Linked DNA regions of Homo sapiens: region 1 is linked to region 2. Evidence: fine-mapped expression QTL. Tissue or cell type: whole blood. Region 2 holds a variant in brackets; the other region holds the start of a gene. All regions are shown on one strand. Distances are between the middles of the regions.

Evidence for each region. PIP is the estimated chance that this variant, and not a neighbour inherited with it, causes the effect.
Region 1: it holds the start of GNB4, and the variant in region 2 is fine-mapped to the expression of GNB4 in whole blood (INTERVAL, PIP 0.99).

What each region holds. Positions count from the first base shown.
Region 1 is chr3:179,449,066-179,454,447 of GRCh38, forward strand. It overlaps GNB4 (G protein subunit beta 4), which reads right to left and starts at 2,405. Exons shown (of 10, transcript NM_021629.4): 1 at 2,281-2,405. It also overlaps the pseudogene RPL29P34. RefSeq lists silencers at 1,976-2,385, 2,426-2,575.
Region 2 is chr3:179,470,603-179,475,984 of GRCh38, forward strand. It overlaps a transcript of GNB4 not described here. Among named protein-coding and RNA genes, the nearest start is that of GNB4, 22 kb to the left of the region's middle. The variant T/G (reference allele first, on the strand shown) is at 2,389.

The sequences.
Region 1 (5,382 bases), 22 kb before region 2:
TAAATTGCAGAGGGAAATATCCATCAAAATATCCTCTAGTTTAATTTGAGGGATATCAAAGGGTTCTCATATCCCAAAATTGACCGCAATCCTGTTTGTAACCTTCCAAATTAGTTATAACTCTATCTCTAGAGAACCCACATTAAAATGGAGTTACTGTTTTATCAAGATAATTAAGCCATCACTACCTATTAATATCAATAGGATACACTGTGCCCTGGCAAAAGGGAGGTTTTGAACTTGGAACAAGACATTTAACTAGGAGTAGAGTGGTGAGAAGAGAATGGCTGATGTGAGAAGCTGTATAAAAACATGGGACAGACAATAATGATCATGCTGGAAAAACAAACATGCTTCTGGCATGTCTTGGATATTTTACACACATGCTAATGAGTAATTGAGGGTCACTCCTCATGCCCTCGAACTAAGTTAATATGGCTCAGGGGAAAGAACATGGACTTTGGAAACAGAGGGGTCTTGCTTCGAATCCCAGTTGAGTTACCTAACACCTACATGACCACTGCCAAGTTACTTAAAACCTCACAGACAATTTCCTTACCTGTGGAAGTAGATAATGGTGTTACTGTGAGATATAAGTAGAATAACTTACAGCACTGCCCCAGCCCAGAAGAGATATTTTAATAAATAAGTCCATAACAGACGCAGATTAAAATAGTCAGCAAGGTAAAGAAACTGATGATACAGCCAGCTGACTTCAATAACATGCCTAAGAGAAATCACACCATCTCAGGCAGTATTTGGTAAGGCCAGAAGAATGTCCAACACTTAGTTCCAATTCTTAATTTTCAAATTGCCCCAGAGTCTATTTTTAAAGTGTAAAAGTATGTGCTGACATACTTACATGCCAATTGTTTAAAAGAAACAATTCTACAGGTTAACAAAGGCCAAAGACTCGGAATAACTTCCTAAATAATGTTTATGGGCCCACAAAGAGTTGAACCAACCTAAAATATCACAAGCTGTATCAATCAGTTTTATAAATGTATATACAGAGGGTTGACAACGTTCAATAAGATGATATTTTAAAAGTTTCTATTTCAGTTTCAAATTCATCTACAAACCAAAATGCAACATGGAAAATCTTAAAATGTCTTTAAGCCACATACTGAAATATACAGTAAATTTTCAGAGCCTAGGATCAGTAGTAAACCAAAAGCCCCAAACTGAAGAGTATTAAAATGAACAATGGCAGAGACTCGAAGCACACAATTTTGAATGCACCTAATCAGCCGTCCTCCTCTCCGACTAGAAATAACTTCCCTCCCATCTTAAATTAAGTAGCGTGTGTTCTGTCTCTGTCCTAGAAGATGTACTTAATGGTCATAAACTCTGTTTGCAACACTGAGACGGACTCATAATAAAAGTTCTAATCAACAATTAAATTTTGAACGTTTTAAGAAAACTTCCCGCTAAGCCACACGCCAAGCTACTTTGTCGGTGGCTGAGAGGGAGAAAGATGCATCCTTATCCTTTATGGAAAGAGAAAGGGAAGGAGTGGGAGAAAAGGGAACACAAGGAGACGAAAAATAACAAAGTATTGCTTGTATAAACAAATGAAAGCCTGGTTTCAAACTTTTGAAAATTCAACGTTCCCTTAGCGAATAGCAATACATATCAAAGTATATGGCAATCATCTGTGTTCTGAAGCAGAAAAAGGTGGAGAGAAAAGCAAAACACTTTTTATTGTACTGAACTCACAAGTATTCAAAATTCATCAATCCCCTCCCATCCCCAAACTCTGGACATTATATCATTTCCAAAATAAATCTGAAACAAAACCATTGGACTAATTTTGGACTCAGCGTAGAACTTTTATGAGTCTTCCAAGCACTCTCCACCCAACAGCCCTGCTGGGCAGTCCCGAATACCCGTTATTTTGGGGGCACGCACGGGCTCGTGCTCTGAGTTCCTGGAAGGAGGCCTCGGGGAGTGACGAGAAACCAGGGGGGTCTGCAGGACTTGGACCGCCGACCGTTCCTCGCTCCCCGGGGCGAGCGGTCTGGACCGCCCGGGAAGTGCCTGCGCCGGCGGTCGTGGGGCCAGTTCCCGCGTGGCAGCTGGGCGCGACACAGGCGCGCCCTCCTCGTCCCTCCCGGGCAGCGTCGGCCGCCCGAGCCCGGGGAGACCCGCCCCGCCCCGCGCCGTCACCCGGGCCCCGTTCCGCAGGGGTGGCTCGCGGCGCCCCACGTCCCTGCGAGAAGCCCGGGATCGCTTCGCGGGGCGCACCGACGAGCCGCCGCTCGCGAGCTCGCCGCCTACCTGGAGGGAGCTCAGGCCCGCGTCGACCGCGCGCTGCCGGTGTCCGCTGGGCGCTCAGCAGCCCCTGGAGCGCGGAGCCGGCGTGGAGAGCGCAGCTCACAGCCGAGACCAGAGCCGCCGGCCACACCCAGTCCCGCACCTCCCAGCAGCCAACTCCGCGGCGCGCCGGAGCCGGGGCGGGGACGTGGCTGGAGGCGCGAGGCGCGAGGCACGAGGCGCGCGGGCCCGGCGGGGACGTGCCGGGGACGCGCAGACCCTCGGAGCGCGCGCAGCCCGGGCGGGGGGCGAAGGGAGCGGGCGCCGCGCGCAGCTTCTGCTTCCTATTTTCTCTCTCGTTTCCTGCCAGAAGGAGAAGAAAAACATTCATTCCCGGGCAGTTTCGTTTTCTTGTTGGTGTGGCGCCGGGGCACGCTGCTAAGTAGCGCCCGTCTAAGTGGCGTGGCCAGTTTCCTTTCCGGCGCTGACAGGCGCCAGTTTGCTTGTTAGCAGGATCGAAGGGCAGAGCTAGAAGACCCCAAAGGCCCCATTTAGGTTTCCCATTCTGGAATTCTAAATGTCAGAAAGTAAACTGAAGCCCAGAGTTGCACAACCTTGCGTTGCAGTCCCCGCTCTTCCATCACTAGTTGTAGGACCGTGTACCGTCTCGGGCCTAAGTTTCGTCATCGCCAAAATAAAGATACTGATACCTGCCTCATAAAGGTGCTAAGCATATTAAATGAAGTGATGTTTGCACGAAGCCTGCCTCCAAATAAATGGCCAATACTTGGAAGTTATTGTTCCTATTGTCATTGATAAAACTGGAAGGCCTTCCAGATATCCCTGCCAAGTCGCTCTTCTCTGCATGAGTTAAACACCACATGCATCTCAATCGAGTTTTTTTTTTTTTCACATTTATCTGGGTGTTTTATGTTTAAAATGTCATAAAATAAATGCATCTATCCAATTTGCTTCCTCTGAAGTCAGTACCGCCTGGGAGCATTTTTCCTCTCCCCACCCCCATTTTTCTTCTGAGTTAATTCCAGTTTGACAGACTGTTGCTATAGCATTCCTTCTCTGACGTCAAACAATTTAAAGAAACAGCCCTGGGTAGCGAAAACTGCAGAGGAGTTCTTTGTGGAGTTTCTGTGCCGGAGAAATGTTCGAACAATATCATCAGATAACTTTAACAACCCCTCAGCCTTCCAATCCTCCTTCTGTAGCTGCTTCCCACTATCACCTGGAATAAATCTATTAGTCCCTTGAAAGAGGTGATGCCATGATAAACACACCCTGTTTGTGACTGTGGGGAAAATGTGACCGTTTTGTATAAAAGCCAGGCCGTGACAAAAATAGAAGCAGCTGTTTCTATTTTCTTTATCCACAGATAAAGAAACTGTGGATAATTTTTCCCCCAAAATTTTCATTTTTACTAATATTAGGAGCATTTTTCCATTAAGAAGAAAGAAATGCCAAATATTCTGCATATCAAAGTGTCAGAAGAGCTCGTTGGGACATGAGTGTTTTGCATCTGTAACTATTTATGTTTTAATGATTAAATCCTGAGTTTTATGATTGTCGTTTTTCGGAGGAAGCAAAGGGAAATTGTTAAAGAGTGCCTATTACGGACCATGCTCTCTGCTTTCTTATACTGTACTTAATCCTCATAATTACCTTGAAGTGTGAATTTTATCCCCATTTTACAGATAAGCAAACTGATGCCCTGGTAAGATTAATTTATCGGAGTCACGAAGGTATTGGTAGAGCCCTGCATGACATCAGATTGGATCAACTCCAAAGCCCACATTCTTTCTTTTTTTTGTTTGTTTTTTTGTTTTGAGACGGAGTCACTGTGCAGTGATGTGATGTCAGCTCACTGCAACCTCCACCTCCAGGATTCAAGCGATTCTCGTGTCTCAGCCTCCCAAGTCTGGGATTACAGGCACAAGCCACCACGCCCGGCTGATTTTTTGTATTTTTAGTAGACACGGGGTTTCACCGTGTTGACCAGGCTGGTCTCAATCTGCTGACCTCAGGTGATCCGCCCACCTCGGCCTCCCAAAGTGCTGGAATTACAGGCGTGAGCCACCGATCCCGGCCCCATATTCTTTCTTTAGATTCTTTTCTGCCTTGTTCCTGTGCACTAGCATTTACCAGATGTTATAAAGCTTTGAGAGCTGGTTGTTGGGTTAAGATTATTTGTTGAAAAACAAGTTGCTGGTATTTAGGAAAACACAGTGGGAAGCAATGAGATAGTCTATTCCAGAAAAGATGAGGGGAAATATAAATGAACAGCTCCTAAACATAAAATACAAAACCTGAAAAGATGTAACAAGAATTTGACTGTCTTTTAAAGAGTTTAAAAGAATGATATCGTCAATCTTCCTGAAAATTTAATGTAGACAAAGAAATTACTAGAAGAATAAAGTCCAAGTACAGAAAAAGGAAAGTTTAATTATTATCCAAACGAATCTACTTCCAAGAATATTGTATTTCTGTTTTGCCATACCTGCTCCATATTGTTCTGGAAAAAAAAAAAAAAACTTACTTGTTAAAGGACAAGCCTATACTGAAAATCTGAAAGTGGAGCTGATTAAAAGAATTTTGTCATCAGGAATGATTTCATAAGAGCACACTAATGCATCTAAGTGATCCAGCAATTCATGATTTTTCCAATGATAATGAAATCCACGAAGAACAAAAGAGAGAGACTGGGAAGGGAGGCAGAGAGAAAGGTGAAGGGGTATGCTATTAACATTTCTGATGCCTGCTGGTTTGTGTAGACAATTGTAGAGATGTATCCTACTTCTGAGGATTAAGCCCCATGATCTTTTGTTTGGGTGCCACTGGCTGATAATTAGATTTCTAACTCATTAGGCCCATGTTCTCAAATCCTACTCTATTAAGAGAGCATAGTGGGGTCCCTACTAGAGAACCTTTGAAGACAAAATCCTTGTCCGTTTCATCTTTGTGTCTGCCATAGTGTTTAACAGAGCACCTTGCATTTGCTAGGTACTCCACGAACAAATAAATGAGTGAATGCACTTGGCTGCTTGTTTTATGCAAATAACCTGCATACCTCACCCCATCCCACACGCTAGTCAGAATCATAGGAGAGGAGAAAGT
Region 2 (5,382 bases):
GGCGCGATCTCTGCTCACTGCAACCTCTGCCTCCTGGGTTCAAGCAATTCTCCTGCCTCAACCTCCCAAGTAGCTGGGACTACAGGCACGTGCCACCGCTCCAGCTAATTTTTTGTAGTTTTAGTAGAGACGGGGTTTTATCGTGTTAGCCAGGATGGTCTCGATCACCGTGCCCGCAAGAAAATATTTTTATATAGCTGTACAGTGTGTCTGCGTTTTAAGCTAAGTGTTACTACAAAAGAGTCAAAAAGTTTAAAAATAATTTAAAAGTATACAAAGTAAAAAAGTTACAGTAGGCCGGGCGCCGTGGCTTACGCCTGTAATCCCAGCACTTTGGGAGACTGAGGAGGGCGGATCACGAGGTCAGGAGATTGAGACCATCCTGGCTAACATTGTGAAACCCCCTCTCTACCAAAAATACATAAAATTAGCCGGGCGTTGTGGTGGGTGCCTGTAGTCCCAGCTACTCGGCAGGCTGAGGCAGGAGAATGGAGTGAACCCAGGAGGCGGAGCTTGCAGTGAGTTGAGATCGCGCCACTGCACTCCAACCTGGGCAACAGAGCGAGACTCCGTCTCAAAAAAAAAAAAAAAAAAGTATCAGCAAGCTAAGCTTAATTTATTATTGAAATAAGAAATACTTTTATAAATTTAGCGTAGCCTAAGTGTATAGTGTTTATAAGTCTGTAGTAGTGCACAGTAATGTCCTAGGCTTTCACATTCACTCACCACTCACTGACTCACCCAGAGCAGAGCAACTTTCAGTCCCGCAAGCCCCATTCATGGTAAGTGCCTTATACATGTATACCATTTTTAAATATTTTATACTGTATTTTTATTGTACTTTTTCTATGTTTAGATACACACGTACTTACCATTATGTTATAATTGCCTACAGTATTTAGTACAGTGCCATGCAGTATAGGCTTGTAGCCTAGGAGCAATAGGCCATACCTTACAGCCTAGGTTGTACTAAGCTACTCCATCTAGGTTTGTGTAAGTACTTTCTATGATGTTTGCAAAATGACAAAATCATCTAAGGATGCATTTCTCAGAATGTATCCCTATCGTTAAGCAATGCATGAGTGTAATTAGAAGTTATTTTCTAGTCACCCATAGTTGACTTTTTGAGGTGAGTAGTATTCCTCTCATATAAAAGAGCTATGGGATGCGCATGTAAAAATATACTTTGAGGAGGCAAAATGGAGAGAACTTAGGTAGCAGAATTTTAAATTTTAAATAAAGTAGATATTTGGTTAGTACACCCTTTCTGCAAGACAAATTGTCAGTGTGTACTAAGAGCATTAAAACTCTTTGACTTAGATCCTAAAGATGCACACAATGATTAATGAATGAAAATTTTGTATGTACCAATTATTTATATTAGGGAAAATTTATAAATACAATAATTATATGATTAATTAAATTATGATATAGCCACATAATAGAGGCATAATCAGTCACAAATATTATTTTTTATTTGGGAAAAACTCACTAAACGTAAAGGTAAACTCACAAAATGAAAATGAAGTATGTGCCTTTCAAAGAGAGGTAAAGAAAAAAGTTTTAATGCCAATTTTATACAAAAACATGTATATAGCAATAATAACTGAAAAAATATACCAAAATATCAACATTAGTTTTTGCTCAGTTTCAAATTATGGATAAATTGGATTAATTTATAATTTTCAATATTCACCAAATTTTCTTATAATTAACACATATTTTTTCTTTTTCTTTTTCTTTCCTTTCCTTTCCTTTTCTTTCTTTCTTTTTTTTTTTTTTTTTAAGAGACAGGGTCTTGCTCTGTTGTCCAGGCTGGAATGCAGTGGTGTGATCTCAGCTCACTGCAGCCTCAACCTCCCAGGCTCAAATGATCCTCCCATCTCAGCCTCCTGAGCACCTGGGACTATAGGTGTGTGTCACTATACCTGGCAAGTTTTTTGTAGAGACAGGGTTCTGCCATTTTGCTAAGGCTGGTCTCAAACTCCTGGACTCAAGGGATCTGCCTGCACCAGCCTCCCAAAGTACTGGGATTACAGGCTTCAGTCACCACACCAGGCCATGAACAGCTATTATTTCTATTACTAAAAGAAAACGTTTAAGTAACACCAAAATATATAGTTGGTACTCCTTGATTATTGCTTCTGATTTTATGTCTTGAGTTGGAAAAGGGAGCATACTTTTGATGGAGCATTCTAACACTTTTTTCCTACTCACTGCCACTGATTTAAGTGACCCTCCAAGGACACCAAATTCACTCTTTGAAAATGACAAAAGTTGGCCGGGCGCGGTGGCTCACGCCTGTAATCCCAGCACTTTGGGAGGCCAAGGCGGGCAGATCACGAGGTTAGGAGATCGAGACCATCCTGGCTAACACAGTGAAACCCC[T/G]TCTCTACTAAAAATACAAAAAGTTAGCCAGCCATGGTGGCACACGCCTGTAGTCCCAGCTACTCGGGAGGCTGAGGCAGGAGAATCGCTTGAACCCAGGAGGTGGAGGTTGCAGTGAGCCGAGATCCTGCCACTGCACTCCAGCCTGGGCAACAGAGTGAGACTCTGTCTCAAAAAAAACTGAAAGAAAATGACAAAAGTCTGACTACAGACATCCCTTCCCTTATTCTTCTAGTAAATTCTAGCATACAATGGTAATTCTTTCCAAGGTCAAAAGCCCATTTCTCTTACTGAAGGAATTTTTTTTTAAACTTTTGATTTTGGAATAATTATAGATTCACAGGAAGTTGCAAAGATAATACAGAGCGGTCCTTTGTACCCTTCACCCAATTTCCTCCTGAAGCAACTTTTAATTATGAATTATTTCATTTATTTTATTTTATTTTTATTTAATTTTTTTTTAGAGACAAGGTCTCACTTTGTCACCCAGGCTGGAGTGCAGTTTCATGATAATAGCTCAATGAAGGCTTGACCTCCTGGGCTCAAGCAAACTTCCCACCTCAGCCTCCCAAAGTGCTGGGATTACAGGAATGAGCTACCATGTCTAGCCAATTTGTTTTTTCTCTTATAGTTGAGATTAGTGCTGGGAAGTGGTGTCAATTCTAAAGGCAAATCCAACAGACCGTTCTGTTTCTCTATTTTGAAAACACGGAAATAACTTTTTTCTAACTTCCCGTAGTTTACCCTGAGTCACAGATGTTTGAAAAGAAATTCCAGCCTGTTATATAAGTTCTACTGCAATATCAATATGTAAATGTAACCACTTGGTTGTAGTTTCGGTTCAAGAGTGCAATTGTGCTACACTTCTCTATTATATGAAATTACCCAGCACTGGCAATTACTGTCTTTGGCTTGGAGGGTATAAAGGATGAGAAGAAAGAGGGTAGAAAAGATGATTTTTGGTTGATATAAATTAAGACTTCTTCCCTGTCCTTTTTGATTTGTTTGGCTTCGTCAGTTTGCAACACTGAGGCTTAAAAAAGTAATAATTGGCCAGTCTGCATTGGCTCATGCCTGTAATCCCAACACTTTGGGAGGTCAAGGTGGGAGGATCACTCAAGCCCAGGAATTCAAGGCTTAGTGAGCTATGATTGTGCTACTGTACTCCACCCTAGGCGACAGAGTGAGACCTTGTCTCTAAAAGATAAATAATAATAATAATATTCAATTAAGTCACATATTCTTTTTTTTTTAGTTGGAGTCTTGCTCTGTCTCCCAGGCTAGAGTGCAGTAGCACGTCTCAGCTCACTGCAACCTCCTCCTCCCGGGTTCAAGCGATTCTCCTACCTCAGCCTCCTCAGTAGCTGGGACTACAGGCACACGCCACCATGCCTGGCTAATTATTGTATTTTTAGTAGAGATGAGGTTTTACCATGTTGGCCAGGCTGGTCTTGAACTCCTGCCCTTGAGTGATCTGCCTGCCTTGGCCTCCCAAAGTGCTGGGATTACAGGCAAGAGCCACTGCACCCAGCCAAGTCACAAATTCTTGATGATGAGATTTACACCTGATTTAAATAGAGAAAACAATACATTTTTTGCTAAGTTGCTAAAGTGAAAGCACTGCAGCACTGAAGTAGCAAGAGTCTACAGTTAAGTATCACATTAGAGTACTGTGACCTGGAGTCATGTTGCCCACAGCTGTCTTAGTCTGTTTTGTGTTGCTGTAACAGAATCCCAGACTGGGTCCTTTTTTTTTTTTTTTTTTTTTTTTGCTTTTTTTAGACAGGTTCTCAATATGTCATCCCCACTGGAGTGCAGTGATGTGATCACAGCTCACTGCAGCCTCAAACTCCAAGGCTCAAGTGATCCTTCCACCTTGCCCTCCCAAAGTGCTGGAATTACAGGCATGAGCCACTGTACTTGGTTCAAGACTGGGTACCGTATAAAGAAAAAAAATCGATTCCTTATCATTCTGGATGCTGGGAAGTTCAAGGTCGAGGGGGCCTGAATTTGGCAAAGGCCTTCAAGCTGTGTCATCCAATGGCAGGAGGTGGAAGGGCAAGCAAGGGTGAGAGCAAGAGACAGAGACAGAGAGGGCCAAACTCGCTTTATTTTATTTTTATTTTTATTATTTATTTATTTTTTTGGAGACAGAGTCTTGCTCTGTCCCAGGCTTGAGTGCAGTGGCACAATCTCAGCTCGCTGCAACCTCCACCTCCCGGGTTCAAGCAGTTCTCCAACTTCAGCCTCCCAAGTAGCTGGGACTACATGCACGTGCCACCATGCCTGGCTAATTTTTTGTATTTTTATAATTGCAGACAGGTTTCACCATGTTAGCCAGGAAAGTCTTGATCTCCTGACCTTGTGATCTGCCCGCCTCGGCCTCCCAAAGTGCTGGGATTACAGGCGTGAGCCACCACACCTGGCCCAAACTCGCTTTTTTATTTTCATTTTTATTTTATTTTATTTCATTTATTTTTTATTTGTTTATTTACTTTTTTGAGACAGAGTCTCAGTCTCTCACCAGGCTGGAATGCAATGGCGAGATCTCGGCTCACTGCAATCTCTGCCTCCTGGGTTCAAGTGATTCTCCTGCCTCAGCCTCCTGAGTAGCTGGGACTACAGGTGCATGCCACCACACCCGGCTAATTTTTTGTATTTTTAGTAAAGACAGGGTTTCACCATGTTGGCCAGGATGGTCTCAATCTCTTGACCTCGTGATCTGCCCGCCTCAGCCTCGCAAATTGCTGGGATTACAGGCATGAGCCACCATGCCTGGCCCTGAACTCGCTTTTCTAACAGTCTGCACAAGTGATAATGAACACACTCCTGCAATAATGACATTAACCCATTTATGAGGGCAGAGCCCTCATGGCCTAATCAACTGTTACTTGTCCCACCTCTTAATACTGTCACAGTGGCAATTACATTTCAACATGATTTTGGAGAGGACATCCAAACTGCCTCTGGTCCACCAAAACTCATACAATATAC